Homo sapiens: one gene and its partners. The protein of the gene in region 2 interacts with the protein of the main gene of each other region in a pairwise test. Each region holds a gene or a part of one and is shown on either strand. Other genes may lie near its edges. The genes, in order: DOCK2, KHDRBS2, SULT1A4 and ZNF497.

What was found.
Region 1: the proteins of KHDRBS2 (region 2) and DOCK2 interact in binary tests that used the Homo sapiens proteins (3 or more experiments, as listed by UniProt).
Region 3: the proteins of KHDRBS2 (region 2) and SULT1A4 interact in binary tests that used the Homo sapiens proteins (3 or more experiments, as listed by UniProt).
Region 4: the proteins of KHDRBS2 (region 2) and ZNF497 interact in binary tests that used the Homo sapiens proteins (3 or more experiments, as listed by UniProt).

What each region holds. Positions count from the first base shown.
Region 1 is NC_000005.10:169,709,927-169,717,761, forward strand, and holds part of DOCK2 (dedicator of cytokinesis protein 2), read left to right. Parts: intron 1-2,008; coding exon 2,009-2,081; intron 2,082-2,193; coding exon 2,194-2,297; intron 2,298-4,101; coding exon 4,102-4,285; intron 4,286-4,433; coding exon 4,434-4,531; intron 4,532-6,286; coding exon 6,287-6,376; intron 6,377-7,457; coding exon 7,458-7,558; intron 7,559-7,835. UniProt on the Homo sapiens protein: Involved in cytoskeletal rearrangements required for lymphocyte migration in response of chemokines. Activates RAC1 and RAC2, but not CDC42, by functioning as a guanine nucleotide exchange factor (GEF), which exchanges bound GDP for free GTP.
Region 2 is NC_000006.12:61,890,743-61,898,577, forward strand, and holds part of KHDRBS2 (KH domain-containing, RNA-binding, signal transduction-associated protein 2), read right to left. Parts: intron 4,092-7,835; coding exon 3,893-4,091; intron 1-3,892. UniProt on the Homo sapiens protein: RNA-binding protein that plays a role in the regulation of alternative splicing and influences mRNA splice site selection and exon inclusion. Binds both poly(A) and poly(U) homopolymers. Phosphorylation by PTK6 inhibits its RNA-binding ability.
Region 3 is NC_000016.10:29,454,554-29,463,249, reverse strand, and holds the start of SULT1A4 (sulfotransferase 1A4), read right to left. Parts: upstream 3,338-8,696; 5' UTR 3,265-3,337; intron 1,869-3,264; 5' UTR 1,865-1,868; coding exon 1,717-1,864; intron 1,613-1,716; coding exon 1,487-1,612; intron 1,398-1,486; coding exon 1,300-1,397; intron 1-1,299. Other genes in the region: SLX1B (structure-specific endonuclease subunit SLX1), read right to left, coding at 5,126-5,155, 5,235-5,322, 5,491-5,618, 7,365-7,706, 7,801-7,852, 8,320-8,507. UniProt on the Homo sapiens protein: Sulfotransferase that utilizes 3'-phospho-5'-adenylyl sulfate (PAPS) as sulfonate donor to catalyze the sulfate conjugation of phenolic monoamines (neurotransmitters such as dopamine, (R)-adrenaline/epinephrine, (R)-noradrenaline/norepinephrine and serotonin) and phenolic and catechol drugs.
Region 4 is NC_000019.10:58,353,790-58,360,519, forward strand, and holds the end of ZNF497 (zinc finger protein 497), read right to left. Parts: intron 4,797-6,730; 5' UTR 4,700-4,796; intron 3,861-4,699; 5' UTR 3,847-3,860; coding exon 2,350-3,846; 3' UTR 568-2,349; downstream 1-567. UniProt on the Homo sapiens protein: May be involved in transcriptional regulation.

The DNA of each region.
Region 1 (7,835 bases), on a different chromosome or scaffold from region 2:
TTTTCCTAGTGTCATATCCTGGGGCTAGGATTCTGTTGAACATATTTTAGAAATTCTTTGTTTTAGCCAAAGCAGGTGGGAGGCTTGATGGATCAATGTGATTGTGAACAACATATGAGAATATATTATGTTTCTCTTCATGAAATATCTAACTCAATTCTGAGGCCAGTCATGAACATACTGGAGGGACATAGAGTGACAGAAAAACTTCTTTAGCTCTAGTTTATAGCAGAAGTCACCATCTGTAAGAGCTTAGGGTCCTTGGAGGCACCTCTCTGAATCTGAAATGACCCCCTAGCATGTGTCTGGTGGTATTGTCAGCCAGTGGAAATGGAGGCCAGGTGGGTGAGCACCCTGGTTCCCTTGATCACCCTTCCTTGGTGCAGGATGTAACCAAAGTGGAATTGTCAAATAGTCCTCTTGTGGGTGGTGCCCAGTTCATCAAGCTGCACCATTCTACTCAGCAATGAGGAGTGACAGAGCTTGCAAGCCAATGTGAGCCTATCACAGGCTGTATAATGCCTGAAAGATGCCCTTTTGGAATAATTCCTTGACAGAAGTGACATTAACTACAAATATTACATTACCAGATCGTCACACTAAGCAGAAAGGAATAACCTGCATTGGAATAAGGATTTGGAATTAATTCAGTGAACACTGCAGCTTGATCATAGCTTCAGATATCTCTGCCTTATCATTAGCAGCATTCTTTATTCCCCCCGGGCTCTGACTCCAAACACAAGATGCACACTTGACTTCCTTTTCAGTGAGAGCTATTCAAACCCCAGCGGTTCTCCACTTATTACACATATTATTACTTTGCTCAGTGTGTCTCCCCATACCCAATGCCTTCGAATTGATGACCCGGTCAACTCTGTGGTCAGAAAGTTAATGTACCAGGTCAGGTTTCCCTTCTCTGTTCTCTCTTGCACCTCAGTTGTATCTCCTTGCTAGCCCTTGTCACAGGGCTGTTACACATTGCCCCATGTGTAACACGGAACAATGAGCTCTTTGAGTGTGAGGACTCTGCCTTGTATCAGCATGGCCAGCACCCCACATGATTGTAGCTTCTAGTGAACATTCAACACTCAGGGAAAGAATGAATTGGCTGCAGTTACCCATGAGACCCTCAGTTCCTTTGCTCTGCCTGAAACATAGACAGGATGGTGGACCTCCTCAGGCTCAAGCCTCATTTTCTGCAACAGAAAGTGCCCCCAAGTATACATTTGTTTTGGCGTTTAATAGGCATCTGTACAGTACAAATGTATTCCTTTTTAAAATCAGTGTCCTTCTCTCAGGTAGCTAACCTTCTCCGCATTGGCCTGAATCTCAGATTGCAGAGGAGCTGTGAGACTTTGGGAGGTGGGCAGCACAGAGCCAGGCTGAAAGCATCACAATCAGTGGTACCAGTGGGTCATTCACTGGACAGGGATGCCTGGGTGACCAGTGGGTTGTTGTCTTAGCTCAGTGTCCTTGGAATCAAAAACATCTGGACATGTGTCTGATCAAGGGTGAGATGAGCCCTAGGATTTTTCCAAATATTATTGGATTAAAGCATTTTTATTAATTTGCATAAATGAGATTCCTCAAGCAAACCCCCTAACAACCATTGTTAATTTGCTAAGCCCTGCTGCAATTGCCAGAACTCCTGGAGTGTGTAAGGAAAATGTGCATTGTGCAGTTTGCAGTGCATCAAATCCTGTGCTAAAGTTATGTGACTTTTATATCAATTTGGGGAGACTCATTTTTCCTCACTATAATTTACAGACCTCTTTTCATTGGCTGGGAATGCAATTTGCCAAATGGATTACATTTGGTACTTTATTTTCTCTTCATAGCTAGTTCTTCTGTAATTTATTTACAGTTCATCAGCCTCAATGGATGGGTTGTAAATCAGCAGGCAGCTCTCTCAGTTAAATGGTCAGGCTGCTGTGGAAGTGTGTAGGGGGGTGCAGTGGGGAGGGCCCTTTAACTCATTGTGTTCTGAGCTCTGTTTCTGTCTGCTGAGGTGGCTGTCCCTATTGAAGACATGCAGAGGATCCATCTGCGATTCATGTTTCGACATCGGTCATCTCTGGAATGTGAGTACCATACTGAATGGCATCTCTGCACCTCCCCCTAAGGGGAGAAGAATGGAAGAGCTGGGTGGCCCATGTATCATTTTCTTTCCTGACCCCACAATGCTATTTCCAGCTAAAGATAAAGGAGAAAAGAACTTTGCCATGTCCTATGTGAAGCTGATGAAAGAAGATGGGACTACTCTACACGATGGATTCCATGACTTAGTTGTCCTCAAGGTACCATGAGTTGGAAGGAGCTCTGCACTGAGGGGAGTGCAGGAAGAAAGGGGGTGATGGCAAAATTGCTTAGTGGTCAACAGCAGGGACCCCAGAATCACACACACCAGAGTTTACCAACTTTGTGGCCTCTTATAAACTCTTGACTTCTCTGGGCCTCTGTTTCCTCATCTTTGTGCCCTCAGTGAATATTTGTGAAAATTATGAGACAGTGGATGTAAACATAGCAATGATGAGTACATGGAAGAACTCAATACATGGAAAAGGTTATTGTTATTTACAGAAAGGTTATTGTTAATGACTGTTATATACTCTTGACTCTGTAGGGACCTCTGTGGCATGTGTAGAGGATGTACAATAAACATTTGAGAGATGCTGCATTGTAGCTAATGGGAAAATATTAAAACCTGCAGTCCTGATCCTGCTGCTGACTAAGCCTGGACTCATCTCACATATTTTCCTGAGTCTCAGTTTCTTTTTTCTTAAGCAGTTGTGGCAATATTTATGACAACCCACTAGGATGACCCATGAAAAATGGCCATCTAAACTATAAAGGGAGTGCAGATGTCCACTATTTTTATTTTTACATTATGAGACTTGGACTGTTTTTGAGACATGGAGGAGCATTTGTCTGGTTTTTACCTGCTGCTTTTCCACATGTCCTCTTATGACAACAGAATGCATCTACTAGCACCTGGCTGGAGGCAAGTGTATGGCTGTGAGGTGGAGCAAGGTTGAGTAGCCAGCACATGGATCACACCCTTGCCCTTGGCTTTCTTAGCCTTGTAGGCTGAAATTGCCCTTTTGCCTGTGGGATGCATGGCAAACACAGCCTCGTCAAGGCTTCATCTCATAGTACTCTTGTACTCTTCTCTGAGTCTCTCTGACTTTTCCAGAAAACCCCCTTTCTTCTGTACAGCCTCTGTTTTCTCATTTATCACACATAGAATTCTTGGCTTGAAAGCCCTTCTTCCCTGACAGAATGTGAACTCCTTGGGGTCAGAGGCCTAGTTGCAGTCAATTTTCTTTTACTTACCCCCATTAGGTCCCAGTTTCCTTGACTGAGGATAATAACAGTGTCTGCTTCATATGTTTGTTATGAGGCTTAAATGAAATGAACCAAGACATATAAAACACTTGGTTTCACTCCTGGTGCGGAGTAAGATAAATGTTATCTTCTGTAATGCCTACCTCTAGTCATTCATTTTAACATGCCACTCATTTATGTGTGTATCACTCTGCTATGTATTCTATATGCATTATTCCATATTATCTGCTCAGGTATTCTAGGAAGTAGGGATGATGATTGTCTTCAGTTTACTAATGAAAAAAAAAATGAGACACAAAGAGGCAAAATAGTGTATTCAAGATAGCATAGACCTGTGAATGGCAAAACAGGGTCCAGATCCCAGCACACTCTTACTTAGTGCCTTTGCCATTAAATTCCTCTTTAAGCTAGAGTCCTTATTTTGCTGGTGAGCAGATATTATGGTCTCAAAAAAAGGATGAATTAAAATGTACTGTCTGGGAATTTTCAATTCCGTTTTTATTTTGCCATTAATGAGGTTCACAGAGCTTTCACCTGGTGGATCAACCCCCTTTCTATTAATGTGTCTTTGAATTCTTACCTGTATTGTGGAAAAACAGTCCTGCCTCACCAGCCAATGTCTATTGCTTCTCTGATGATTTTCTTCACTCTTTATGACTCTCCCCACTTCACAGTGTCTAATTTGTCTGCTGCAGGCTCTGTGTGGCATTGGGCATGGAGCCTTGGCTTGGGGCAGTAACCAAGTGTTGTTTCCAGGGGGACAGCAAGAAGATGGAGGATGCCAGCGCATACCTGACCCTTCCTTCTTATCGACACCATGTGGAAAACAAGGGGGCCACGCTGAGCAGGAGCTCCAGCAGTGTTGGGGGGCTTTCTGTCAGCTCCCGGGATGTGTTCTCCATTTCCACCCTGGTGTGCTCCACAAAGCTCACTCAGAATGGTAATCGGGTCATCAAGAGTTGTGTCTGTGGGGAGTGTGTGTGTCCGTGTGTGTGTACATGTGTGTATGTGCTTGCAGACCCAAGGAGGTCCTGATATGGACAGTTAGGCCAGTAATGATACTTCTGAATGTCTGGACTCTATTTTAGTGGGCTTGCTGGGTTTGCTGAAGTGGCGTATGAAGCCTCAACTGCTACAGGAGAATTTAGAAAAGTTGAAGATTGTGGATGGAGAGGAAGTGGTGAAGGTCAGTGGGGCTTCATTTTGATTGTATTCTTACACTAGTGACAGAACTCTCCATGTGGGTGGCTTCAGGGGAAAAACAAGGTATTGAAGGACATGGGGAAACTTTTCTTCCAACAGTAGGATACACTCTCCCGAGTTGCCTTGAGGAATCTTTATTGGGAAATCCAGGGGAGTGACTTGGTTCAATGGCACTGAATGTTGGGTGCCAGAAAACAATGGTTATGCTCAATCTCTGGAAATAGATGAGCCTGGGTGTAAATCCCAGCTCTCCCACATGCCAACTTTATGTGATAATATAAAAGTGACATAGTTCTCAGGGCTGTTATGAGCATTCAAGGTGATAATATTTAAAACTTACTCAACAGTCTCTTACACATAGTACACAACAATTAAACCAAAGCATATAAAACAAAGTTCAATAAATGGTAATTATTATTTTTGTTGTCATATGTTGATATATATGTATATGCATATATATGTATGTATGTGTGTGAGCATATATATGTGTGCATATGTATATATACATATATATATAGTAGTATGATCTGTTAGTACTACCCACAGATCATTGTTAGAAATAAAAAGTATTCTTGGTTTCTGCTGCTTGGAGAGCATTATGTATTAAAGACGGGAAAGGGAAAGACATCAGGGCTTACATTTTAAGTGAAATAAGCAGAAAACAATGCAAATGTCAGATGTATTATTGCATCCACATGGTAGTGGAGAATAGAAAGCGTCTGAAGTGCAAATCTAATTAAAGCAACCCTTCTCTCCAGCCTTATGAATTGGGACAAGTGTTTCCCAATGGTCCTGGAGATCTTGTTTCCTTGATACAGCTAGAAATTCTGAGATTAAACATCTTTATATGGTAGCTCTGTGTTTTGAGGGATTATAGGAAATATTGACCCATCCCTTAGGAGGGAGGAAAATCAAGTTTTATTTAATTGCCTCTACCTGGAGAAGCAGTGGCAGAATTTCCAGATGCCGTAAATGTATACCACTGACCCATCTACCTCGTTCAGCAATGGCAGAGTAACTCCCCAAGACACCACTTTAATAAAGTCTATAGCCTTTTGGTAGCTTGGAGAAGTCATGGAAGAGATGAGGCTTTTGTTGTCTTCCTCTTGCATTCTTTTTTCTTTTTTTTTTTTTAAAAAAGTTTGTTATTTAAATATGATATACATATGATGAAATAGATACAGAGCAGTTATCTTAAGAGTATAGCATAATGGATTTTTACACACGTAAACACCATGTGTACTCACCACCCAGAAGAGGATACAGACCACTTTTAGCATTATAGTAGATTCCCTCATACCCCTTCTCAGCCAGTAGTCCCCCGGGGTAATCACTGTCCTGACAACCATCATTGTAGATGGGTTTTTGCCTACTCTCAAATTTCATAAGAATGGAATAGTGAAGAGTGTACTTTCTGTGCCTGATGTATTTTACTGCATATAATGCTTGTGAGAATCATCCTCATTTCTGCCTGTGGAAGTAGTTTGCACTTTAGTCCAGCTGTGTAGTATTCTCTAGTGTGAACATGCCACCATCTGTGCATCCATTCTGCTGTTGATGGGCAGTTGGGTTCCTCCAACTTCTGGCTCTCGTGAGTAAAACTACTCTAGACGTTTTGAGCATGACATGTGGTGGATGTGTGCTCTCATTCTCTTATAGATAGTTAGGAGTGGGATTGCTGGTTCACCTGTACTTTGTCTTGTTTCTGAAGTAGTGCAACCTTTGTTATTTCTTCCAGTTTCTCCAGGATACTCTGGATGCCCTCTTCAACATCATGATGGAGCATTCTCAAAGTGATGAATATGACATCCTCGTCTTTGATGCCTTGGTAAGAGAGAGGGGAAAAGTGTCTAGTGACAACAGGCATTAATGTATGTCTTACTGTGAAAATACTGAGAACTCATGGCCCTCATGGCCCTCATGGCCTTTTTCATGAATTCTTTGGAGGTGTTGTAATGTTTGGCAACAAGACCAATAATGAGCTGCTATTTCCTTTTGCTTCTTGCCAGTTCATTTGAAAGCATGAGGCATTGTGGGTGAAAGGGGAATTTTAAATGCTGATGTCAGATTGACACTGGCTGAAGGTACATGAGGCTGGATATTGTGAATGATTGCTTCTGCTTTCTATGAATGTTGGGAGCTAGTCCCTGGCTAGGTTGTAAAGCACCAAAAATGTTTCTTAGCTTTCCTTTCACCTTCTTCTCCCCATTTCCTCCAACTCACTAATCATTACATTTCTCCTACCCACCCAGAACTTTTCATGATGCTGTACCATCCAGATCTTCCTTCTTTTAGTCCTCCCCTATGGTCTTTTTGTCCTCTCCCTATCTCGACTCAGATTTTCTCAGTGTTATGTCAAAATAAACACAAGAAACATCTGCATTAGGGAATCAGTGCCCAACAAAGTTTTTAAGTGTTAACCCCTTGTGTCATGGATATTTGCATTTTTAAAGAGGTTACTGAGAGACAACTGTGGCTTAATCAAGTGCTTCCCCAGAGAGTACCCTAGAATGCTAGCTCTCAGAAAAGATGTTTCATGACAAATATATACTTTGATTAATTAATTTAGGGAAGTGTTGAATGTTGCATGACCCTTTTAGAGATTCACAATGTACATAAGTATATTAAAGATTCTAAAAAGTTTTGCAATAAGAAAGTCTAATAATGATAACCTGACATTTCTCAAAACCTATTTGACCATGAAATCCTTTTCATCTTATAACACCCCACAGCACACTTCATGAAACATTTTCTTTGGGAAGATGCTACCTTAATAAAGAGAACTCATTATGTATTAGTGAGCTAATTCCTGGGCAAAGGATTTTAATGGGGGTTGAATTATGCCAGGTAAAGATGGCTTCCTGCCCTGGGTTTGCCCTGAAAATACTGCTGCCTTGCATCTTCCTCAGATTTACATAATAGGACTCATTGCAGACCGGAAATTTCAGCATTTCAACACCGTTCTGGAGGCTTACATCCAACAGCATTTCAGTGCGACCTTGGCTTACAAGTAAGTAATTGTGCACATGGGAACTTCTTCTCTACCACCCTCTTGCCCTGCCAGGATGCCTAGGGCACAGGAACTTGAGTAATTTTCTTTTGTGACTCATCTGTGTGAGCTCTCCATTCTCTAACAAAATCTAACCTATGCTTGGGTTATTTGGATATCATTAAAAATGTGGAATACCCATAGGTTTGGATGAATGCCTTATGGTTGCAGTGGTACCTGGAAGTGCTCATTCATCCATTCAGCTAGCGTGCTCTCATTTCTTGAGTGGACACCAGGA
Region 2 (7,835 bases):
TGTCTCTGGCAAGAAATGGCAGAACCAGGGCTAGTCCCTGAGTTTTTTTTGAACCTTGTGGGTTTGTTTGCAGAGTAGAATATGATTTCTGTTTCTGGTTTTGCAATTTTAAGATTGTCTAAGGTTTTAAATATTGATAGTTGATGTAGTGAAGATACTTAGATGAACACATTTCACCTGTTCAAGTAGAAGTGGATTTTTACACTTAGTAACATTATTCCTAAAAGGAATACATGCTAAAAATTAATATACTCTTAGGATTAGCTATAAACTATGTTTACTTTATTTTATAGTTAAATTTTGATTATTAACCAGTCCATATGTTTTGAGTGCCCAGTATGTGACAGTAACTATATTTGAAGAGTTTACATTTAAATGAGCAATAATTTACATAAGACATTGAAGAGGACAGCATGTTTATGGATAGTTGAATGAAACAAATACCTAGATCAGGAGATGGACATGCTGGAGAGGTTAAAGGCAAAATAAATCATTTTCATAGTACAATGATCTGGCTTGCATCAGTTAAATTTAATATTTACAGAAGACCATGGTGGATAAGCTTTTTGATGTGCTGCTGGATTCCATTTGCCAGTATTTTACTGAGGATTTTTGCATCGATGTTCATCAGGGATATTGGTCTAAAATTCTCTTTTTTTGTTGTGTCTCTGCCAGGCTTTGGTATCAGGATGATGCTGGCCTCATAAAATGAGTTAGGAAGGATTCCCTCTTTTTCTACTGACTGGAATAGTTTCAGAAGGAATGGTACCAGCTCCTCCTTGTACCTCTGGTAAAATTCGGCTGTGAATCTGTCTGGTCCTGGACTGTTTTTGGGATGCAAGACTGGTTCAACATAAGCAAATCAATAAACATAACCCAGCATATAAACAGAACCAACGACAAAAACCACATGATTATCTCAATAGTTGCAGAAAAGGCCTGTGACAAAATTCAACAACACTTTACGCTAAAAACTCTCAATAAATTAGGTATTGATGGGATATATCTCAAAATAATAAGACCTGTCTATGACAAAACCACAGCCAATATCATACTGAATGGGCAAAAACTGGAAGTATTCCCTTTGAAAACTGGCACAAGACAGGGATGCCCTCTCTCACCACTCCTATTCAACATAGTGTTGGAAGTTCTGGCCAGGGCAGTCAGGAAGGAGAAGGAAATAAAGGGTATTCAATCATGAAAAAAGGAAGTCAAATTGTCCCTGTTTGCAGATGACATGATTGTATATCTAGAAAACCCCATTGTCTCAGTCCAAAATCTCCTTAAGCTAATAAGCAACTTCAGCAAAGTCTCAAGATACAAAATCAATGTGCAAAAATCACAAGCATTCGTATACACCAATAACAGACAAACAGAGAGCCAAATCATGAGTGAACTCCCATTCACAATTGCTTCAAAGAGAATAAAATACCTAGGAATCCAACTTACAAGGGATGTGAAGGACCTCTTCAAGGAGAACTACAAACCACTGCTCAATGAAATAAAAGAGGATACAAACAAATGGAAGAACATTCCATGCTCATGGGTAGGAAGACTCAATATCATGAAAATGGCCATACTGTCCAAGGTAATTTATAGATTCAATGCCATCCCCATCAAGCTACCAATGACTTTATTCACAGAATTGGAAAAAACTACTTTAAAGTTCATATGGAACCAAAAAAGAGCCTGCATTGCCAAGTCAATCCTAAGCCAAAAGAACAAAGCTGGATGCATCATGCTACCTGACTTCAAACTATACTACAAGGCTACAGTAACCAAAACAGCATGGTACTGGTACCAAAACAGAGATACAGACCAATGGAACAGAACAGAGTCCTAAGAAATAATGCCACATATCTACAACTATCTGATCTTTGACAAACCTGAGAAAAACAAGCAATGGGGAAAGGATTCCCTATTTAATAAATGGTGCTGGGAAAACTCGCTAGCCATATGTAGAAAGCTGAAACTGGATCCCTTCCTTACACCTTATACAAAAATTAATTCGAGATGGATTAAAGACTTAAATGTTAGACCTAATACCATAAAAACCCTAGAAGAAAACCTAGGCATTACCATTCAGGACATAGGCATGGGCAAGGACTTCATGTCTAAAACACCAAAAGCAATGGCAACAAAAGCCAAAATTGACAAATGGGACCTAATTAAACTAAAGAGCTTCTGCACAGCAAAAGAAACTACCATCAGAGTGAACAGGCAACTGACAGAATGGGAGAAAATTTTCACAACCTACTCATCTGACTAAGGGCTAATATCCAGAATCTACAATGAACTCCAACAAATTTACAAGAAAAAAACAACCCCATCAACAAGTGGGCAAAGGATATGAACAGACACTTCTCAAAAGAAGACATTTATGCAGCCAAAAGACACATGAAAAAATGCTCATCATCATTGGCCATCAAGGAAACGCAAATCAAAACCACAATGAGATACCATCTCACACCAGTTAGAATGGCAATCATTAAAAAGTCAGGAAACAACAGGTGCTGGAGAGGATGTGGAGAAGTAGGAACACTTTTACACTGTTGGTGCGACTGTAAACTAGTTCAACCATTGTGGAAGTTGGTGTGGCCATTCCTCAGGGATCTAGAACTAGAAATACCATTTGACCCAGCCATCCCATTACTGGGTATATACCCAAAGGGTTATAAAGTATGCTGCTATAAAGACACATGCACACGTATGTTTATTGCGACACTATTCACAATAGCAAAGACTTGGAACCAACCCAAATGTCCAACAATGATAGACTGGATTAAGAAAACGTGGCACATATACACCATGGAATACTATGCAGCCATAAAAAATGATGAGTTCATGTCCTTTGTAGGGACATGGATGAAGCTGGAAACCATCATTCTCAGCAAACTATCGCAAAGACAAAAAACCAAACACCGCATGTTCTCACTCATAGGTGGGAATTGAACAATGGGAACACATGGACACAGGAAGGGGAACATCACACACTGGGGCCTGTTGTGGGGTGAGGGGAGCGGGGAGGGATAGCATTAGGAGATATACCTAATGTAAATGATGAGTTAATGGGTGCAGCACACCAACATGGCATATGTAAACATATGTAACAAACCTGCACGTTGTGCACATGTACCCTAAAACTTAAAGTATAATAATAAAAAAAAAAACATTTACAGAAGACTTCCTATTGTTACACTATTAGTAAATTTTCCCTTTTTACATATTTCACAATCTAGTCGGAGAAATGGACACAAGGACCACAATGTAATTAGTGGAATACTGACAATCAGAACTAAAGGTTAAAAGATGTTTAGATACATAAGATGACCAAAAGATACAGTAGATAGGAAGGGAGGGGGATGCTTGGAAACACTGCATTTTGTCTATTCATTGTATATTTTTTTGAATTTTTTATGCCAATCCACATCTTTAATATGGTGAAAGAAAGAGTCAGGATATATAAATGAAAGACCAGCCACACGGTCTTACAATACTCCCAAAGTTTATAATATAATCATATTATATTTGTTAAATATTTCTGAGTTTTATGCTAATCTTTGTCAAGTTCCAGAAATCTCTGAATACATGGCAATTCACCTTTTGTTTATAATTATTTCTCATTTGAAATCTGATCAAACTTCCTAAGGATAAGTTTGGTTCTTAAAATACAAGCTCTTTAACTAGCACTAACAGTGATGACACCTGTAAAATGAAACCTTTTCTCAAAATGCTCTCATTTAAATGCACTGCTTAAATTCTGTTGTAAATGACATTCGTTTCTGCAACAAACATTACCTGCTATATTCACGGTATATGAACAGTTTGAGACGTAGCTTGTTAACTAATCAATTTAACTCATCCTTACAACTTATTTCTTAAGAGTACTTACATATTCTTCATAAGCTTCATGGGCTGGAGGAGGAGGTGCCCTGTATCCTGGCACTGTTGGTGCCCCCCGGGCTCGAGGGGTAGGGACACCTCTTGCTACAGGTGGCACTGGAAGCGCTCCACGGGTTACAGTGCTTCCCCGAGGGGTGAGAACACCTCGTCCAGGTGGTGGGGGAGGAGGAATGGCACCCCCACGGCCCCTAAGAGAAACAAGTCATGTATAGATGAGAAACAGGTGATGAGAGAAAAGGGCCTATCACAGAAAAAGTTTTCATCTCACAGCCTCCATACAATGAAATAAATACAAATTTCTCTCTCTCTCTCTGTGTGTGTGTGTGTGTATGCATTTAATAGAAATTATATAAGATATAAAGTGTGTTGATATCTATAGAAGACAATAATTGTAAACACTGACTATGATTAGTTCTTATAAAAACCATGTAAAATACTTTGTTATTGTCTTTTATATAACTAAAAACCCAAAGCCAGAAAAAAAAAAAAAACCCAAACAAAAACCCACTCTGAATATAACCCCATTAAATTCCAAATTCTCGAAGAAGACACAAATCAGAGCATCGTCTGATATATGACTCACTGGACCATCTCTGAAACTGAGCGGTTTCAGATGTCTGCATCTCCTTTATGCTGGGGATTACAGATAGTGATGGACAATGCTGTCATTTACCAAAAAAAAAGGTGGCTGCACTTAAATAAAATGTGGGAATCTAACCATAGTGATATCATTCTGTTTACTATAGCTGCTTAAGTTTGAGATTACTTGAAATCACAACTCTTTGTCACTGATTTATCATCATGCCTGTAACCCCCTGAACTGGTGCAGTCCCTGACAGAATATATTTTCTTAACCATAACTATGGTGTTAGAGGAATACTTTAGTATCTGTAATAAAAATAACAGACTGAATACTCTGTATTGCAGTTCTTGATACAAAATTGACTTGCACTAAAAGTGTAAGATCAAATGGTTGTGGCCAATTTTTATGGCATTTTGAAGCCTTTAGAATGGTTGAGTGTTTGTCTGAAGTCTTTGGGCAAAAGAACAGTTATTTCACTTTTTATTTTGTCTGAAAGGTTGGCCTCTAGATAGCACTGCTTTCAGTGGGAACACTAAAGCTTTGGGGAAAAAAATGATGATCATTGAGATGTCAACAATCACAGTATTTGGCTGTAGGCACATATGGGGACATAGGTTATGCTGTCTGCTATGAATAGCAGTCAGATGGCTCTTTCTTGCTTAAAATAAAAGTGAGCATTTATAAGTGAAGGGTACGAATGCTGGCAAAACCTTTAAAATTTTTAAATAGATTACAGAGCTGATGAATAGAGAAATGATGAGAGAATTTATTGTGAGTCTAATGTATAAAGAATACTCTCCTAGATTGGGAGAAGGTGAAACACAAAGACCCAGAGGCCCAGTGCTGGCTGCAAGTACAACATGGCTAAGAATACAGTATTCTGTATTACCATGATAATACATAAAGGGATGTAAAAACCAATTTTGCCTTCACTGCTCCTCCAAGCACATTTCTGTTTCCTCATAAGCAAGATGAGCATATGTCCAGGTTTTATAACTGTTGTCCTAGCTTCCTGTTCAGTTTAGCATTTTAACACTCTCAAAAATATCCATGTGTGGGCAATAAATTATATGGTCACCCTACTCTATTCACGAGCCTTCGCTATACCCTTGAATAGTCATGGGTAAGTATTATAACTACCTAGGCTTAAGATAGATATTTTTTTTTCTAATGAGTAAAATGCAGATTTCTAAATTTATAGTACTTCCTTCTGCTCTAATATTATATGATGCTCATATCAAATCTAATTTTCCATTTTCTTCCTTCATCAACTGACTACCAGACACAGCCCTAGCAAACCTGCCTCCTGAACCTGACTCATTACCTCTTATCCACTATGTTCTTTCCCTGGAATATTAACCTCATTGTTCTCTCCTCCAATTTAATTCAAATCACTTTTTTTAGGATACTGCCCCTGGCTAAAACCACACCACAGTATCCTGTCGTTTATTTGTCTGACTTGCTGAAAGAATATTTTCTGTTTAATTCTTTACTTCCTCTACATTCCTGAACTGAATGTTATCAGTCTAGTTCTTGCTTTCACCCCTCTGTTGAAAATGCTCTTGGCTGAGATCACCAGTAGCCTACTGATTTCCAAATCCACTAGATTTCTTTACAGTCTCCATGCCACAGCACCTTTCTACTATTTTTAAGATTGTGGACTATTATCTGGAAAATGTTTCTTTGGACTTTTATGACTCTGCTTTTCTCTACTTTTCCTCATTCCTCCTTATTCGTTATCCTCCTTCACTGGCTTGTATTCCTGGACCCACTTTGGAATCTGGATGTCCCCAGTTTCTATCCTCGATCTCATGGTTGCACCCTGCAATCCCTACCTCTGATGATGGCTATAATCTGTTTTCTTCCTAACATAATGCCATATCTTGGCTTGTGTTCCTTATATCAGAAGTTTCTTAACTTGCCTGCATGTTAAAGTTACTTGAGGATCTTTTGAAAATTCCAAATTCCAGGCCATACCCTAGGCCAATTAAACCACAATCTCTGGAGACAGGGAGCTCCCAGTGATTCCAAAATACAGGCCAATTTGGGAACCACTGCCTTAAATGAATACTCCAATTTAAGCATCTTGACAAGCTTGTCATGTGGGCAGTTCTAAGTTTTTTAAAAATACATTGAGATATTAAGGCATGGAGAGAACAAGTCACCTGCCCAAGGTCACACCAGCAATCCACAGAGCTCAGATTATTTACAAGAATAATTATATTCTTCATTTAATTTGATCCTTCACCTACTCTTAGTTAATGATATCATCAATTTCTCACCAGGCTAGACACCAAAAATTTATCTTTCTCTTGGGGAACTCTTCTTCTCCAACGTTTAATTGGCATTAATTCATATAAATGTTAATCTCTAATCTGGCCCTATCCCTGTCTATTCCAAATGCTGCTCATTTTTATCTGCCTTGGATGATGGAATTGTTTTCTCATTGGCTCCCCTGCCATAAGACGGTTTCTCTGTCTCTGTCTCTCTCTCTCTCTCTCTCTCTCAATCACTGTAACTCTTCTGCATCAACCACAGTGATAATTGAGTAGTCTTTCGCATAAACAAATATGACTACTCTCCTCTTTAACAAACTCTATTAGTTCTATGTATTCGTTCTCAACGTGGTAAACAAAAGCCTTCAAAATTTACCCCGATGTTTCGTTTTTCAGTGACTGCACTCACTGCAACATATAGTGGTGATGTGTGTTAGAGATGTCATATATTTTCATTCATCAATTATGCAAAATAAATTATTATTACAATATATAGATGTAATGCTTTGTTCTCTGGTATACATTATTATTGGAAAATTAGAGTTATCATAGATAGGATTATTGAAATGTAAATTGTTTTAATTAAATACACTTTCAACAAATTATAGAGCTTAAAATATTCTAGACATCATCTTTTTGAATATAAGTGTAATTAAATAACTTCATAAAGTAATAATTTCATAACAATTCAAATTAGGAATTGTTAACTCATGTTATGCAAAGTTCTCTTATTAATAAGATTTTCTATTTTGTAAAGCTATTTTCTTTTTTTTTGTGGGCATTTGGTATGACCAATCTTTAATTTTCAAGCAATAACAAATATATAGTATCGAGCACTTACTAAATATCCGATACAGTTGTAAATGTCTTTACATGTAATACATTTAATGTTTTATTGTAAGTCTCTAAGTGATTATTGTATTAATTAAATTGTAACATATAATTACATAACATATCCAAGGTCAACATTTTAACTTATTGTTTATCTCATTCATTATGAGATACACAATTATTTTATCTTAACACTATGAGAGAAAACACTGAGTTAAATTATGACTATGCCATGTATGTCA
Region 3 (8,696 bases), on a different chromosome or scaffold from region 2:
TAGAGGCTGACTTGCTTGAGATCTCACTGCACAGGTAGGGCCAAGCTGGGATCTGAACCCTGCTCGGAAGCCAAAGTCCTGCCTGGTTCCTGAGACCATATTCTATACTAATATAATCTGCACCAATGCCATCATATCCTGATCTGGAGCAAGGCATGCCTGGTCCCCACCAGCTCCCCCTCCTCCGCTGACCTGTGAGCACCCACATGCTGCCTTTCTTAAGTGTGCACTGTAGAGACTCACTATCCTTGCATCAGACCCTCATCAGAGCAAGAGGCAGACAGTGTCCTCTCTCAAGATGTGATGAAGGCTGGGCGTGGTGGCTCATGCCTCTAATCCCGGCACTTTGGGAGGCCAAGGTGGCCAGATCACCTGAGGTCAGGAGTTCAAGACCAGCCTGACCAACATGGTGAAACCCCATCTCTACTAAAAATACAAAATTAGCCGGGCGTGGTGGCAGGTACCTGTAATCCCAGCTCCTTGGGAGGCTGAAGCAGGAGAATTGCTTGAACCCAGGAGGCGGTGGTTGCAGTGAACCGAGATCACACGATTGCGCTCTAGCCTCGGCAACAAGAGTGAAACTGTCTCAAAAAAAAAAAGGGCCAGGCGCGGTGGCTCACGCCTGTAATTCCAGCACTTTGTGAGGTCGAGGCAGGAGGATCACAAGGTCAAGAGTTTGAGATCCACTTGACCAACATGGTGAAACCCCGTCTCTACTAAAAAGAATACAAAAATTAGCCGGGTGTGGTAGCACACGCCTGTAATCCCAGCTACTCAGGAGGCTGAGGCAGGAGAATCACTTGAACTGGGGAGGCGGAGGTTGCAGTGAGCTGAGATCATGCCACTGCACTCCAGCCAGGGTGACAGAGCAAGACTCTGTCTCAAAAAAAAAAAAGATGTGATGAGCCTGGCAGAAGCGAGGAGGCCCTTCCAGAAGAACAGGTACATGGCTGAGAGGGCACCTGAGCCCCCCTTCCTGGCTTTCCTTGCCAGTCAGTGGGAACTTTTTTTTCGTAGAGATGGTTTTGCTGTGTTGCCCAGGCTGGAGTGCAGCAGCAGGATCATCAGGGCTCATTGCAGCTTCCTATTTGCATAAACAGTCCTCCCCGCTGAGCCTCCTAAGTAACTGGGAACAGTCTATGCCACCATACCAGGTTGTTAATTTTATTTTTGTAGAGATGGGATGTCATCTCTACAGCAATGTTGCCCAGGCTGGTCTCCATCTCTCGCCTTCAAGGGATCCTCCCTCCTCAGTCTCAAACTGGGATGACAGGTGTGAACCATTGAGCCCGGCCTCACCTTGACCTTCTGATCCAACAGAGTCTGAGGGAGCAGAGCCAGGGGCAGGTGTGACTTGATGAGCCGTGGGGGCGGTGTGTCTTTCAGAGTCTCCAGCCCTGAGTAGTGGGTCAGGGAAGGTCTGGTGAGCTGAAGCCCCAGCCCTGTCTTCCTCCACTTCCCTTACCCCCAGGACCCAGCCATGCACCTGAGGGTTCCCCTGGATCATTGACCTCAAGGAAGGGCACCCGTACGTAGATGGGAGCCCGGTTACACTTCTCTAGGTCGCCGCCCTGGTAGATCATGTCCAGTATCTGGCTCACCCAGGTGGTGCCTGGAGAGGGAGGGAGATAGGAGGTGAGCAGGCTGAGGGCACGACCTTGCTGACCAAGGTGGGGACTGCCGCCTGGGAGAGGGTGGGTGGCCCTCCTCACTTACCAGACTTGGGGTAGGTGTTGATGAGCAGGTCATCAGGTCGGGCTTGGAAGCTCTGCAGGGGCCCCAGTGCCTCTGCAAAGTACTTGATGAGCGGGACCCCCTTCACGTACTCCAGTGGCGGGCGGGAGGTGTCCTGGATCAGCTCCATGTTCCTGCATCAGGGGCCAGAGCCAGGCCCGTTCCCTTACCACCATCACAACAGCAAGAAAGTGGGATTCTCTCTTTTTTTTTTTTTTTTTGAGATGGAGTCTCACTCTCACCCAAGCTGGAGTGCAGTGTGGCACAATCTCAGCTCACTGCAAACTCCACCTCTTGGGTTCAAGCAATCCTCCCGCCTCGGCATCCCAAGTAGCTGGGATTACAAGCATGTACAACCATGCTCAGCTAATTTTTTTTTTTCTTTAGTAGAGATGGGGTTTCACCATGTTGGCCAGGCTGGTCTAGAACTCCTGGCCTCAAGTGATTTGTCTACCTCAGCCTCCCAAAGTGCTGGGATTACAGGTGTGAGCCAGCACCCAGCTGCCCCTTTGCAGAGTTTTTGCTTTCAGGGAAGTCACTGAGGCCTAGGGAGGCTGAGTGACTTGCCCGCACTCACAAAGTCAGTCAGTGGCGGGGCTGGGGCTGAAACCAGGTCGTTCCCCAGCCTGGCCGCACCTTTCAGTCACCTGCAGAGCTGTTCAAAATCCCAGGGCCTGGGGCATAGTGCAGACCAGTGAAAGCACCCTCGTAGCGCGGGGCCCAGATATCAGGGTGTGTGAAGGTCTCCAGGAGAGTCCAGCTGTGCTGAGGAAGCTCTAGGGCCTGCCTGTGCTGTCTCCCTGCCAGCCAGCGCCCTTTGTCTCACCATTTCCTGCTGGGACCCCCAGCCTCCACCCAGTGCGCTCCTCTCCCCGATGCTCCCCTCCTTGAGCCCCCCTCATGCCCCTCACATGTGGAAACCTCCCAGGCCGGCCAGGTCTGTGATCCACTTGCCTGGCCACAGTCCATCTGGGCTCCAGAACAAACACAGCCCATTGAGCAACTAAGCTGGTACCAGGGGCTAGAGCCTCGTGCGGGAATGAAAACTGATGACTCATCAAAAGGAGGGGCCCAGGCAGGGTGACTCCCGCCTGTAATCCCAGAGCCTTGGGAGGCCAACGGGAAAGGATCCCTTGAGCCCTGGAGTTTGAGACCAACCTGGACAACAAAGCAAGACCTCTCCTCTACAAAAAATATTTTTCAAAATTAGCTGGGTGTGGTGGCTTGCTCTTGTAACCCCAGCTACTCAGGAGGCTGAGGCGGCAGGATTGCCTCAGCCTAGGAATTTGAGGCTGCAGTGGGCCAGGATCCCACTACACTCCAGCCTGGGTGACGGAGCAACACCCTGTCTCAAAAATACACAAAGGAAAAGAAGGAACGCAGGGGGATTCCGGCCAGGCTGGGTTGTCTAATTGAAATGGAATATCCATGGGAAAGGGCAGGGATGGCAGAGGCCTCGGCTTCTAGAATGTTGGAGCCACAAGCTGAGCAGGGTGAAGGTGCCCTGGGCCATTCCAACGTGTCACTCACCTGAGCTCTCGGGAACCTGACCTGTTCTCTCCTTGCCTGCAGGGGCTGAGTATGGGTGTGGTGTAGGGAGTGTAGGGCTGCTCTCTGCCCTGAGGGTTTTGAAGGTCCAGTGTGGGAGGGATCTAAAGTCAGGGCTGGGAACTCCAGGAAGGAAGGGGTGGGGTTGAGGGTGGGGAAGCTTCTCTATTACCCTCCTTACCACCACAGCTCCAGCCAAGCTTGGAGTGATCTGCAAACCCAATATGTGAGTTTAGTGTATAGAAAACACATGAATGAAAGGCAAAAGGGGCCAACATTGGTATTTGGGTTTTTTTTTTTTTGAGCTGTCACTAGGCTCCTGACCTTCCCTCTGAACTCCACCCTGCAGGGCAGGCCAACAGACAAGCTTTCTTTCTTTCTTTTTCTTTTTTTTATATGAGATGGAGACTCGCTCTCTCGCCCAGGCTGCAATGCAGTAGCACGATCTCCGCTCACTGTAACCTCCCCCTCCTGGGTTCAAGCGATTCTTCTGCCTCAGCCTCCCGAGTAGCTGGGATTACAGGTGCACACCACCACATCCGGTTAATTTTTGTATTTTTAGTAGAGACGGGGTTTTGCCATGTTGGCCAGGCTGGTCTCAAACTCCTGAGCTCAGATGATCCGCCCGCCTCGGCCTCCCAAAGTGCTGAGATTACAGGCATGAGCCACCATGCCTGGCCGACAAGCTTTCTCTAATTGACCCAGGCAAGGGAGGTGAGTGAGTGGAGGGGAAAGGTGGGATAGGCCGGCCTGGGAAAAGTCACCTACCTGCTGGCTACAGGCCAGTCTTGAAGGCGGCAGGGGTTCTGGCCCAGTGCAGTCCACAGGCCCCCAGCAGCCCAGGCATTCCAGGCTCTGACCACAAGGCCAGTCTGGAGTGATGTGTGGGGGCAGAGTGAAGGGGCAGAAGTGGAGCAGAGCATGGACATATAGAACAAGAAAGAGGCTGAGCGTGGTGGCTCACGCCTGTAATCCCAGTACTTTGGGAGGTCGATGCAGCAGGATCACCTGAGGTCAGGAGTTCGAGACCAAGCTGGCCAACATGGTGAAACCCTGTCTCTACTAAAAATACAAAAATTAGCTGGGCATGATGGCGGGCACCTGTAATCCTAGCTACTCAGGAGGCTGAGGCAAGAGAATCACTTGAACCCAGGAGGCGGAGGTTTCAGTGAGCCAAGATCACACCACTGCACTCCAGCCTGGGCAACAGAGTGAGACTCTGTCTCAAAAAAAAAAAAAAAAAAAAAAAAAGAAAGAAAGAAAGAACAGAAAGAATAAGAAAGGACAAGGACACTGTAGTCCCATTGCCCTAGGAGCCAGCCCTAGCTTCATGGCTCCTGGGGGACCTCACAGAGCATCAATAGAAGATCCTAGAAGAAAAACAACCCTGGCAGGTGCTTTTCTTTCCCTGGGTTTGAAGGAGGCTCCGTAGACAAGAGACTAGAGGAGATTAAGACTTGGAAGCCACAGGGCCCCGTGGAAGGAGGGCATCCCCCCATCCTCCTTGGTCTTTGTCCTATTTGCATTCAATTTCAAGGTAAGTCTCCCAGGCTTCCAAGAATTGCATGAGCTCAGAGGCAAGTAGGGGAAAGCTGAGGCATGGGGTTTCCAGGCAGAGTAGAAGCTGTTCACGTGCTAGGGCCAGGGGCCCCTCCTGCCTCCTCTGTGCCCCTGAGGAAGCCCCGTGACTGGCAGGACCTTGGGCTACTAGCTCCGCCCCTCCCCTCAGCATCCACCATAAGGCACCCTTGACTCAGACTTTTTATTGTACTCAAGTAAAAACCTGCTGGACCCACAGCAGGTGGCACAGAAAAGAGGTAGGAGGGGGTAAGGACACTGAGGATCAGGTCTCCAGCAGGTCTGTCCAGTGTGCCTGCAGAGGCAAGCAGTGTGGTCACAGGCAGCCCAGGGCAGGGAGTGGGGTAGGGAGCCCGCCACCAAAGCCCACTCACCTCTTCTAATTCTGAGTCTTCTACTTCTTTCTCAGTGTCCATCTGGCACAGCCAGATCAGGTCTCCCCAAAGCAGTGACTTCTCACAGCTACCAAGGAGAGGGGCAGGTAGGAGATACAGAGTCAGATGCCACAAGCCCCCTCCAGTATCCGCCCTGGATGCTGAGATGAGGGCTCAGCTGCCTGGGCCTGGATTGCACAACTGGGCACCCTCTTCCCAGAGGTGGACCAGGCTGGGGCCAGGGGACTGCACTCACCAAGGGCATTGGCCCTCTAGGGGCAGAAGCTGCCCTGGTTCTTCCTGAAGAAACTCCTCTGCCAGGCAGATCACATGGGCCCTTAGCAGGCAGCCAGGGTGGGGGCAACACAAGGGCCCCTCTTCATCCTGACCCAGGCAGCAGGCAGGTAAGAGACAAGGAGGGAGAGGCAGCTGGCAGCAACCCCTCTATGCAGCAGGCACTGTTGCGGGCATTACACAGCTCCATCCCATGAGGCAGGGGTGACTGTTATTTGCATCTTACAAATGAAGAAACTGAGGTGGACAGTTAAAATCCTTGCCCCTAGGACTAAGCTGGTGCAGGTCCTGGGAGCATCAGCAGTGATTGATTGAGTCACAGCCTCACCACTGCAGCCAGACCTGAACTTCCTCACAGCTCAGCAACACCCAGCAGGTCACTGAATGTCCCCAGGGCAAGTCCTCTACTCACTCACAATTACCGGGAGCTCAGTAGAAGGCACCCATCGTCCATTATTTTATTAAATATTTAGGCCGGGCACGGTGGCTCATGCCTGTAATACCAGCATTTTGGGAGGCTTAGGTGGGCAGGATCACCTGAGGTCAGGAGTTTGAGACCAGCCTGGCCAACATGGTTGAAACCCCATCTCTACTAAAAATACAAAAATTAGCCAGGCGCGGTGGCAGGCGCGTGTAATCCCAGCTACTCTGGAGGCTGAGGAAGGAGAATTGCTTGAAACCAGGAGGCAGAGGTTGCAGTGAGCTGAGATCGCGCCACTACACTCCAGCCTGAGCGACAGAGTAAGACTCTGTCTCAAAAAAAAAATAAATAAATAAATAAAAAGAAAATTTCTGGGCCATCGGCTCAGTGCAGGACTTTGTTCTACAGCAGTGATAAGTGCTGCCCTCTGATAGTGCAGTGTGGCAGTTGGGGTGGGAGAGGCTAATGAGATCAAGAAAACACGTAGCATGCCAGACAATAGTAAGTGTTAAGGGAAAGGGGGTGCAGAAAAGTGCACACAAGAATGAGCTGCAGTTCATTACATTGTTTTAGAGACAGGGTCATGTCCAGGCATGGTGGCTCACGCCTATAATCCCAGCACTCTGGGAGGCCGAGGCGGGCAGATCACTTGAGGTCAGGAGTTTGAGACCAGCCTGCCCAACATGGCGAACCCCATCCCTACTAAAAACACAAACATTCGGCAGGTGTGGTGGCACACTTGGGAGGTTGAGATAGGAGAATCGCTTGAACCCAGGAGGCGGAGCTTCCAGTGAGCTGAGATCACTGCACTCCAGCCTCCGCAACAGAGCAAGACTCTGTCTAAAAAAAAAAAAAGGGCCGGGCGCGGTGGCTCATGCCTGTAATCCCAGCACTTTGGGAGGCTGAGGCGGGCGGATCACGAGGCTAGGACATCGAGACCATCCTGGCTAACACGGTGAAACCCCGTCTCTACTAAAAATACAAAAAATTAACCAGGCGTGGTGGCGGGCGCCTGTAGTCCCAGCTACTCGGGAGGCTGAGGCAGGAGAATGGCGTGAACCCAGGAGGCGGAGCTTGCAGTGAGCAGAGATCGCGCCACTGCACTCTAGCCTGGGCGACAGAGCTAGACTCCATCTCAAAAAAAAAAAAAAAAAAAAGAGGGTCATGCTCTGTCGACCACACTGGAGTGCAGCGGAGTACTGATGGCCTAGGGAAGAACCTTTTCTTTGAAGGGGAAATGGTGAAGGCCCTGAGCAGGGCCTGCTTTGCTCAGGAATGGCCGTAAGTCCTATAGCATCAGCATCTTAGAGATGGGGATAGGGTGGCCAAAGCGTGTCAGTGGGTTTCCCTCAAGAAAGAGCTGGATCCGAAGTCGTCTGGACTCTAGAGCCATCCATTCCTCGGGGGGACCTCACCTGGATGGTCTGGGCGCACAGGGAGCAGCAGGCCCCTGGATCCCCCTGGTCTGGCTCAGGCTCCGCGTCATCAAAGGGACCTGCGCGGCGCCTTGGGGCCGGGGCCTGGGGCGGTGGAGGCCCGAAGGCCAGAGGCACGTGCGGCGGCGGCGGGAGGCAGAGGTCCTGGCGGAGGTCTGGGCGCACCCAGCGCAGCGTGAGCGGGAGGCGAGCCCAGGGCGGTGCGCGCAGCATGTGCGCCAGCACGCGCAGGTGGAAAGCGAAGGCTGTCTCTCCTCGCAGGCGAGGCCCCACGTGCGCCAGGCGGCGCGAGGCGTGCGGGTGCTGCCAAGCCCACTCAAACTGCGGGCGGCGTACAGGGGCATCAGGGCGGCTCGGAGCGAGGGGCGGAACCCAAGCCCTCACCCGGCCGCCGCTGCCCGGTCTCCTTCCTTACCCGAAGGGCGGCCACGGAGGACGGGAAGCCGTGCACGACGAGCACCATCTCCCTGAGGAGGAGAACCGTGATGTCCCTGTCGCAGCCCAGCGCCTCAGCCGCGGGTCCCCTCCAATCCCACCCGAGAGCGGGGTCCTCATTCCCGGCTTCAGCCGAGAAGTGCAGCCCTCTGCACCTGCCCACCTCAGGCCCTGCCTCCAGCCCAGGTACCCACCTGTCCCACCTCCTCTCTCTCCTGCATTCCACCCGACCCCAGCGTGCCCACCAAGAGCCCTATGCTGGAACCCAGCCTGGATCATCACCCCCGCCCCAGCTAGCTCCTTCCCTGAGTTCCGCCGCGGAGATGCCCCGGGCACCGCCTCCCCGTCACGCTCCTCCCCTGCGACAGGCCCCGTCCCCACCACAGACGCCCCGCCTCTGTCACAGTCCTGGCCGGTCCTTCTCAACAGGCCTGTGCCCCGCGGGGTCCGCCTCCTCTGGGACGCCTTCCTCCCGGCACAGAAGGCCTCCCCCTCTCACCAGGGCCCTCGCCCGCTGGTCCGCCAGGCCCCGCCTTTTTTGCGGCCCCCATTGTGCTGCTGGACCCGACGAGCAGTGTTGACAGTGAACCCCACGTAGACGCGGCCCCGGTACCGGGGGTTCAGGCAGTAGAGCAGGTAGACGCCGAAAAAGCGCCCTGGCCTCGCCGCGACCCCCGCGGGACCCATCGGGCCTTGGGGTTCGGGAACCACAGCAGGGGGTTGATTGCCGTGACCTAGGGTCCAGGGGAGGGCTGGATCGCTAGGGCTGCAGGGTGCTTGCTTCGGAACAAGCTCTCGGGGACTATCCGGAGGCAGCCTGCAGGAAGCCGTAGCGCCGGTACGTGCCCCTCTCCTGTCTGGAGGCGGGTGTAGAAG
Region 4 (6,730 bases), on a different chromosome or scaffold from region 2:
GAGAGTGCCGGGGCTGAAGCCCAGCGAGCCCCTCCCTGTCACACCACACTGCACATGTGACACCAAAGGTGGGGTTCACCTCTTTTCAGACTTTCTGCGGTTGCCCTCACATGGGCTGTCTGGAGGTGCACCCTCACTCTTCCTGAGGACTGTGGTTCCTTCTCCATCACTGGTTCATTCTGCATGGTGTGACCCACCACGGCTCTGGAGTCGGATTTCCACCCAGGTCATTCAGCTGAGACCTGCGCTTCCCAGGCCTACCCGTGACATGTGCTCAGTTACCTGAGCTGCTGGTGGTCACTCATGTGGCTATAGCCTGCTGCCTGGAGGCCAGGCCTCCCGCTTCCCCTGCCTCCCCCTCTCCTCACCACAGCCTGTTGGGATGGAACAGGACAGGGGTGAGACCGTGGTGCTTTCACACTCAGCCTCCATGGACATCCTGTCATTCCCACCCGGGGAGGTCTGGTCCCCACCCTGGGTGTCCCAGCCTAGCTCCGCTACGAGTGTGAGGGCCCAGGGCAACCGCCTAGCCCTCATCTGCCCCCTGCACTGCATCCTCCCCACTCATTCATTCCACAGGCATTTATTGAGCATCTACTGTGTGCCAGATGCAAAGAAGACAGTGGGATAACTGGGCAAGGAGCATTCCAGGCAGAGGGAACAGCCAGTGCAAACATGGGAGATGCGGGTGCAGTGAGAAGGAGCAGAGGAGACCAGGAGTTGAGGCGACTGCAGAGCGATTGCAGAGCTCATAGACGTGATGAAGACCAGCTGGGCACTGCAGCGGCTCTGGCTTCTGCTGTGAGGGACGGGGAGCTGTGGAGACTCCCTCTGTTTGGTCCCATTTCCATATTGCTGAGCACCTGCTGCATGCTCTCTGTCCTGCTCAGAGCCAGTACCTGGATGGAGGCTGTGTGTTCTGGGTGGACTGGGGGAGAATGCATTCTTTGCAGAAGAGACAACCAGGTGCTGAGGCCTGAAGTCATAACCAGACCTGGGGCACTCAGACAAGGACTGGTGGCCAGGCCAGAGGAGCAGAGCTCAGGGTGTGCACAGAACTCAGAAGTCAGACCACTGAACAGTGACAGAACCTTTCAGCCCATTGGCAATGAGGCTGCCCAGGCAGCCAGAGGCCTGGTCAAATCTGAGGTCTGCAGAGATGGAGCTGTCATTCTGTGTTTCCTTTGGCAGTCCCAACACCAGCCTCGTTGCACCCTCCTCTTAGCTTCCCTGGGTTCTCCAGCCCTAAGGGTGGTAGCAGCTTCCTGCAAGTATCCAGCTCTGAGATTCTGCAACATCCACTTTTGCTCTCTGAGCCTTGCAAAACCTGCACAATCAGTCCCTAACTTATATCCCCTCTGTTTGAAATACCTAGTGTGGTTTCTATTTCCTGACTTGACTCTGACTGGTGTGGTACTTGGTATAAAGAAGGTTCCCTGGCCAGGTGCGGTGGCTCACGCCTATAATCCCAACGCTTTGGGAGGCTGAGGCAGGAGGATCACTTGAGCCCAGGAGTTTTGAGACCCGCCTAGGCAACATGGTGAGACACTGTCCTTACAAAAAATTTTAAAATTAGCCAGGTGTAGTGACGCAAGTCTGTCATCCCAGCTGCTTGGGAGGCTGAGGTGGGAGGATCACCTGAGCCTAAGAAGTCGCGGCTGCAATAAACAGTGATTGCACCACTGCACTCCAGCCTGGGTGACAGAGTGAAACCCTGCCCCCTCCCCCAAAAAAGAAAAGTCCCATGAAACAGACCTACACAGGTGAGATTCTGAGATTGATCTGGTTCTGACCTCGGTCAGGAATGCAGTGCTGAGCTTCTTGCCAACAGAATATGAGACACTAGAAAGCCATAGCATGCGGTTTCATCATGTTTAACTGTCACCTGTGGTTGCCTGAGATGAAGTGCTGACTGAAGCGAGCACCTTAGGAGACACAGTGGCCACTGCACTGAGCAGCTGGTAGCAGCAGTGGTGACCATGTGGACTGGGGGGTGGGTTGGCTGCTTTTGACAGTGCCAGAGAACTCAAAGAAATAGCCACACCTGTCGGAGACCCCAGTTCTTGCCCACCTCTGCATGGACGAACCTCTCGCCGAAGTGGAGCCTGCCGCCCTCCCTGGGGTAAGAGCCCATCCTACATGTCCCCAGACAGGCCTGGGTGGCCGGTGGACTATCGTCAAAGGGACTGTGCAGCCAGGGTTCTCCACACCCAAGGCCGCCCCTGCACTCCCAGCAGGAGGGCGCCCGCACCGGCGGCCCGAAAAAGTCTGGGCCAGCAGACAGCGCACTCACGCCCGAGACCCCGCAATGCCGTGTGTCCGCGACCTCCCGCTCAGGGCGTCCTCGGGTCAGGGCGCAGCGCGGCCCCCGTGCCGCTTCTGGTGCTCGTTGAGGTTGCAACGGTGGCTGAAAGGCTTCCCGCACTCGCCGCAAGCGTAGGGCCTCTCGCCCGTGTGCGTGCGCCGGTGGCTTAAGAGCTCCGACTTGCGCACGAAGGCCTTGCTGCAGTGGGCGCAGACGAACGGCCTCTCGCCAGAGTGCAGGCGCTGGTGCTGGCGCAGCTCGGAGCTGCCGCGGAAGGCCTTGCCGCATTCTGCGCAGGCGAAGGGTCGCTCTCCCGTGTGCGAAAGCCGGTGGTGCGCCAGGCCGGAACTGCCGCGGAAGGCCTTGCCGCAGTCGGCGCAGGCGAAGGGCTTGGCGCCCGAGTGCGTGCGCCGGTGGCTCAGTAGGTTGGAGCGCTGGCTGAAGGCCTTGCCGCACTGGGCGCACGCATGAGGCTTCTCGCCCGTGTGCACGCGCCGGTGCTCCGCCAGGTAGGAGCCCATGACGAAAGCCTGGCCGCACTCGGCGCACTCGAAGGGCCGCTCACCAGTGTGCGTGCGCTGGTGCTGCAGGAGCTGCGAGCTCTCGCGGAAAGCCTTTCCGCACTCGGCGCAGGGGAAGGGCTTCTCGCTGCTGTGCGTGCGCCGGTGCTGCCGCAGCCCCGCCACACGCACGAAGGCCTTGCCGCAGTCGGGACAGGCGTGTGGCCGTGCGCCCGCGTGGATCTTCAGGTGCTCGGCCAGGTTGGAGCTCTGGCTGAAGGCCTTGCCACAGTCCCGGCAGGCGTGCGGCCGCGCGCCCGTGTGCACGCGCCGGTGCTCCAGGAAATTGGAGTTCCAGCTGAAGGCCTTGCCGCACTCCGGGCACTCGTAGGGCTTCTCGCCCGTGTGCGTGCGTCGGTGCTGCACCAGCGTGGTGCTTCGGCCGAAGGACTTGCCGCAGTCCGGGCAGCGGAAGGGCTTCAGGCCGCTGTGTGTCTCCTGGTGGTGGATGAGCTGCGAGTGCGCGCGGAAGGCCTTGCCGCACTCCCTGCAAGCGTAGGGCTTCTCGCCGCTGTGGATGCGCTGGTGCTGGCTGAGGTTGGAGCTCCAGGCGAAGGCCTTGCCGCACTCGGGGCACGTGTACGGCTTCTCGCCTGTGTGCACGCGCCGATGCTGCAGCAAGTAAGAGCCCTGGCTGAACGCCTTGCCGCACTCCCCGCACCGGCAGCCCGGCTCCTCTGGGAGAGGCGAAGGGCGCAACGCCCGGTCTGCAGGCTCGCTCCTGGGCCCAGCCCCGTCCCGCCCACCGTCTGCGGGGCCCAGCTCCCTGCCGGGGCCTCCCTGTTCGTCCGCCGCCCCCAGTGTGGCTTGCTGCCGCTGGCCGTCCCCTGCCTCCCTCGGAACCTCCGTGGAGTTTTCCCAGGCCCCCCAGCCTCCAGACACAGCCCCCTCAGAGAGGCCCCTCGTGGCAGTCTTCACATTGCAGAGGACCTGGCCTTCCTCTGGGGCCACCTGCAGGGTCCACCCTCTTGGGGACTCCATCTCGCGCCTGTGACCTAAAACAGGAGAGAAAAGGCAAGTACCTTAGAGAATACAAAGAACACCAGACAGAGGGCCTGAGGGGGACACGACGGTGGGTGGGCTGTCATCCCCCACTCTTCTCCTCCAGGTCCCTGGATGCCCAATGCCCTCTGGAGCCTGGAGCAGGAAGGCCAGCAGGCGGGCTAGACACTCGGGGGATGGGCCAGCACTCTGGGCCTGCCTGACAGGGCCACGTGCACATCCCCACACCCGGCCCGGCCCAGCAGGAGGGGAGGGGGCGCCAGCATCGCAGAAGGACTCAAAGTTGCCCACGCACCTGCACTGGCCCTACTGTGGCACCACTCTCCTCTCCTTGCTTCACAGGGTGGGGCCCCAAGTGTCAAGAAGGTGGAGACTCCAGTTTGTGAGGAACACGATGGACCCGTCTCCATTCCTGAAGGCTGGAGGACACCGCCTGACCCAAACACAGCTATGTCTGCCTCACCCACTCCACCCTGGCCGGATCCCTGGGTAGTCCCCTCCACACAGTATGGGCAGCATGTCCAGGCTGGAGGATCTCAGTGGCTGTTACCCAGGCAATGTCCACACCAGGCCTCTGTGCAGGTCAGACCAGGTGGTCCAAGGCATGGGGTGGCTGTGCAGCCCAGATCCCTGAGAGAGAGAGAGGCCAAGGGTGGGAGGGCCTCCTTGGTCCTAAGGCCATGCCTGCCTGTCCAGCCGATCCTTCCCACAGCGAAGTCTCTACAGCGAGCAAAACCCATCCTCATTTGCCCTGAGCACCTTATCATCCTTGTGTAGTCTCCAGCCCCGCTGCCAAGGCAGGGCAGGGACAAGTGTGTAGATGGTGCCATACCTGGAGGTGGGGCCTGGAAGGGGCCCAGGGGAGCCTCTTGCTCCTCTCCCTCCTCTGTCCTGGGGACCAGCTCCTCTTGGGGCCTGGGGGCTGGCACCTGGGGACAGGAAGGCAGCAGGGCAGGGTGAGGTGTTCAGCCTAGCAGATCTGAGAAAACAAGGGGCATGCGGTGGCATGACCCACCCTTCTCTGCACCTTCAGTTCTCAGGACACAATGCGGAGCACACAGGTGTGGACTGGAGATCTCTGACTCTGCCGTCCAAGCCAAGACCACCAAACTCCCACCTGTCACCATCACTTTCCCACAGCCCCCAGGCCCTCTCAGCCACCAACCCACGACTGGCCCCAGTGCTGGCTCAGCTGGGGTCGTGAGCAGGGGAAGCACACCCAGCCCCCAGACCAGCCCCCACTCATCTGGAGTCCTGGCCCAGCTGACTCCTGCTGTAGCCGCTCTGCCAGGGCAGTGGCCTCCTCAGGGCTGCCTAGCCACTGCTCCTGCGTGTAGGCCTGGATCTCTGGGAGCAGTGTGCCCAATAACTGCTCCAGCACCAAGAGCTCCAGCATCTGCTCCTTGGAGCAGGCCTCAGGCATCAGCCACTGGCAACACAGCTCACGCAGCTGAGCCAGGGCCCCTCGGGGCCCTGCTGCCTTCTCATAGCAGAACCCCCAGAAGCACTGGCCAGGGCTCTTGGAGCTGGGCTCACCCACCATCAGTTCCAGTGGACTCGGGAAGACCTGGGGGGCCAGGGCTGATGCCTCACTCATCTGGGCAGCCATCCTGCCCCTTTCCTGGGAGGGGAGTGCAGCTGCATGGCCCAGGGTACTTTCTCTGCAGCTGGAAACACAAAGGTGAGCCTGTGAGCACAGCAAGGCCACGAAGGTCCCCTCCTTGGGACCACCTGAGACTGAGTAAAAATGGAAGAATGGGGGTATCGGCGTTTCTGGCCCCCAGTGTCAGCATCTTTGCCCACCTGTGTGTCCAGGTGCCTGAGGGACACACTGAGGTGCCATGGCTGCTTGTACCATCCCTTCCCCCCGCCTCCCCGCTTTTCTTGAGGGTCCCTGCCCTGCCCTGTCTCCTTGGCACCCTTCATCCCACACACAGAACAACTAAGACAGAGACTGTGAACAGGACACCCAGAGTCAGACCAGCAGATGGGTCCTGTTTGTCCCCTCCAGGAAGTGTTTTAAAAATTTAAGTTAGGCCAAGTGCGGTGGCTGACGGCTGTAGTCCTAGCACTTTGGGAGGCCGAGGTGGGTGGATCACGAGGTCAGCAATTCCAAGACCAGCCTGGCCAACATGGTGAAACCCCGTCTCTACTAAAAATACAAAAATTAGCCAGGCGTGGTGGCAGGCGCCTGTAATCCCAGCTACTCGGGAGGCTGAGGCAGAGAACTGCTTGAACCCGGGAGGTGGAGGTTGCAGTGAGCCGAGATCGCGCCACTGCACTCCAGCCTGGGTGACAAAGTGAGACTCTGTCTCAAAAAAAAAAAAAAGAGAATAAATACTGATACATACTACAAGATGGATGAATCTTGAAAATATTATGCTAAGTGTAAATGAAAAAATTCAGACACAAAAGACTTCATATTATGTTATTCCATTTATGTGAAATGTCCAGAACAGATAAGTCTGTAAGAGACAGAAAGTAGATCAGCGGTTGCCAGGATCTGCAGGGAAGAGAGAAATGGGAGATACAGCCGTGGGAGTGATGAAAATATTCTGGAATTAGTGGTGATGACTGTGCAACACTGAATATACCAAAAACCACTGAATTACACACTTTAAAAGGATGAATTGTATGGTATTTATGTTTTTTAAAAAAGTTACCACCCAATCCCAAAAGCTTAAAAACTGTATGACTCCATTTCTTTTTCTTTTTCTTTTTTTTTTTCTTTTGACAGGGTCTGGCTCTGTCATCCAGGCTAGGGTGCAGTGGTGCAATCTCATCTCCCAGGCTCAAGCCATCTTCCCACCTCAGCCTCCGAAGGAGCTGGGACATCAAGTGCGTGCCACCATACCCAGCTAAT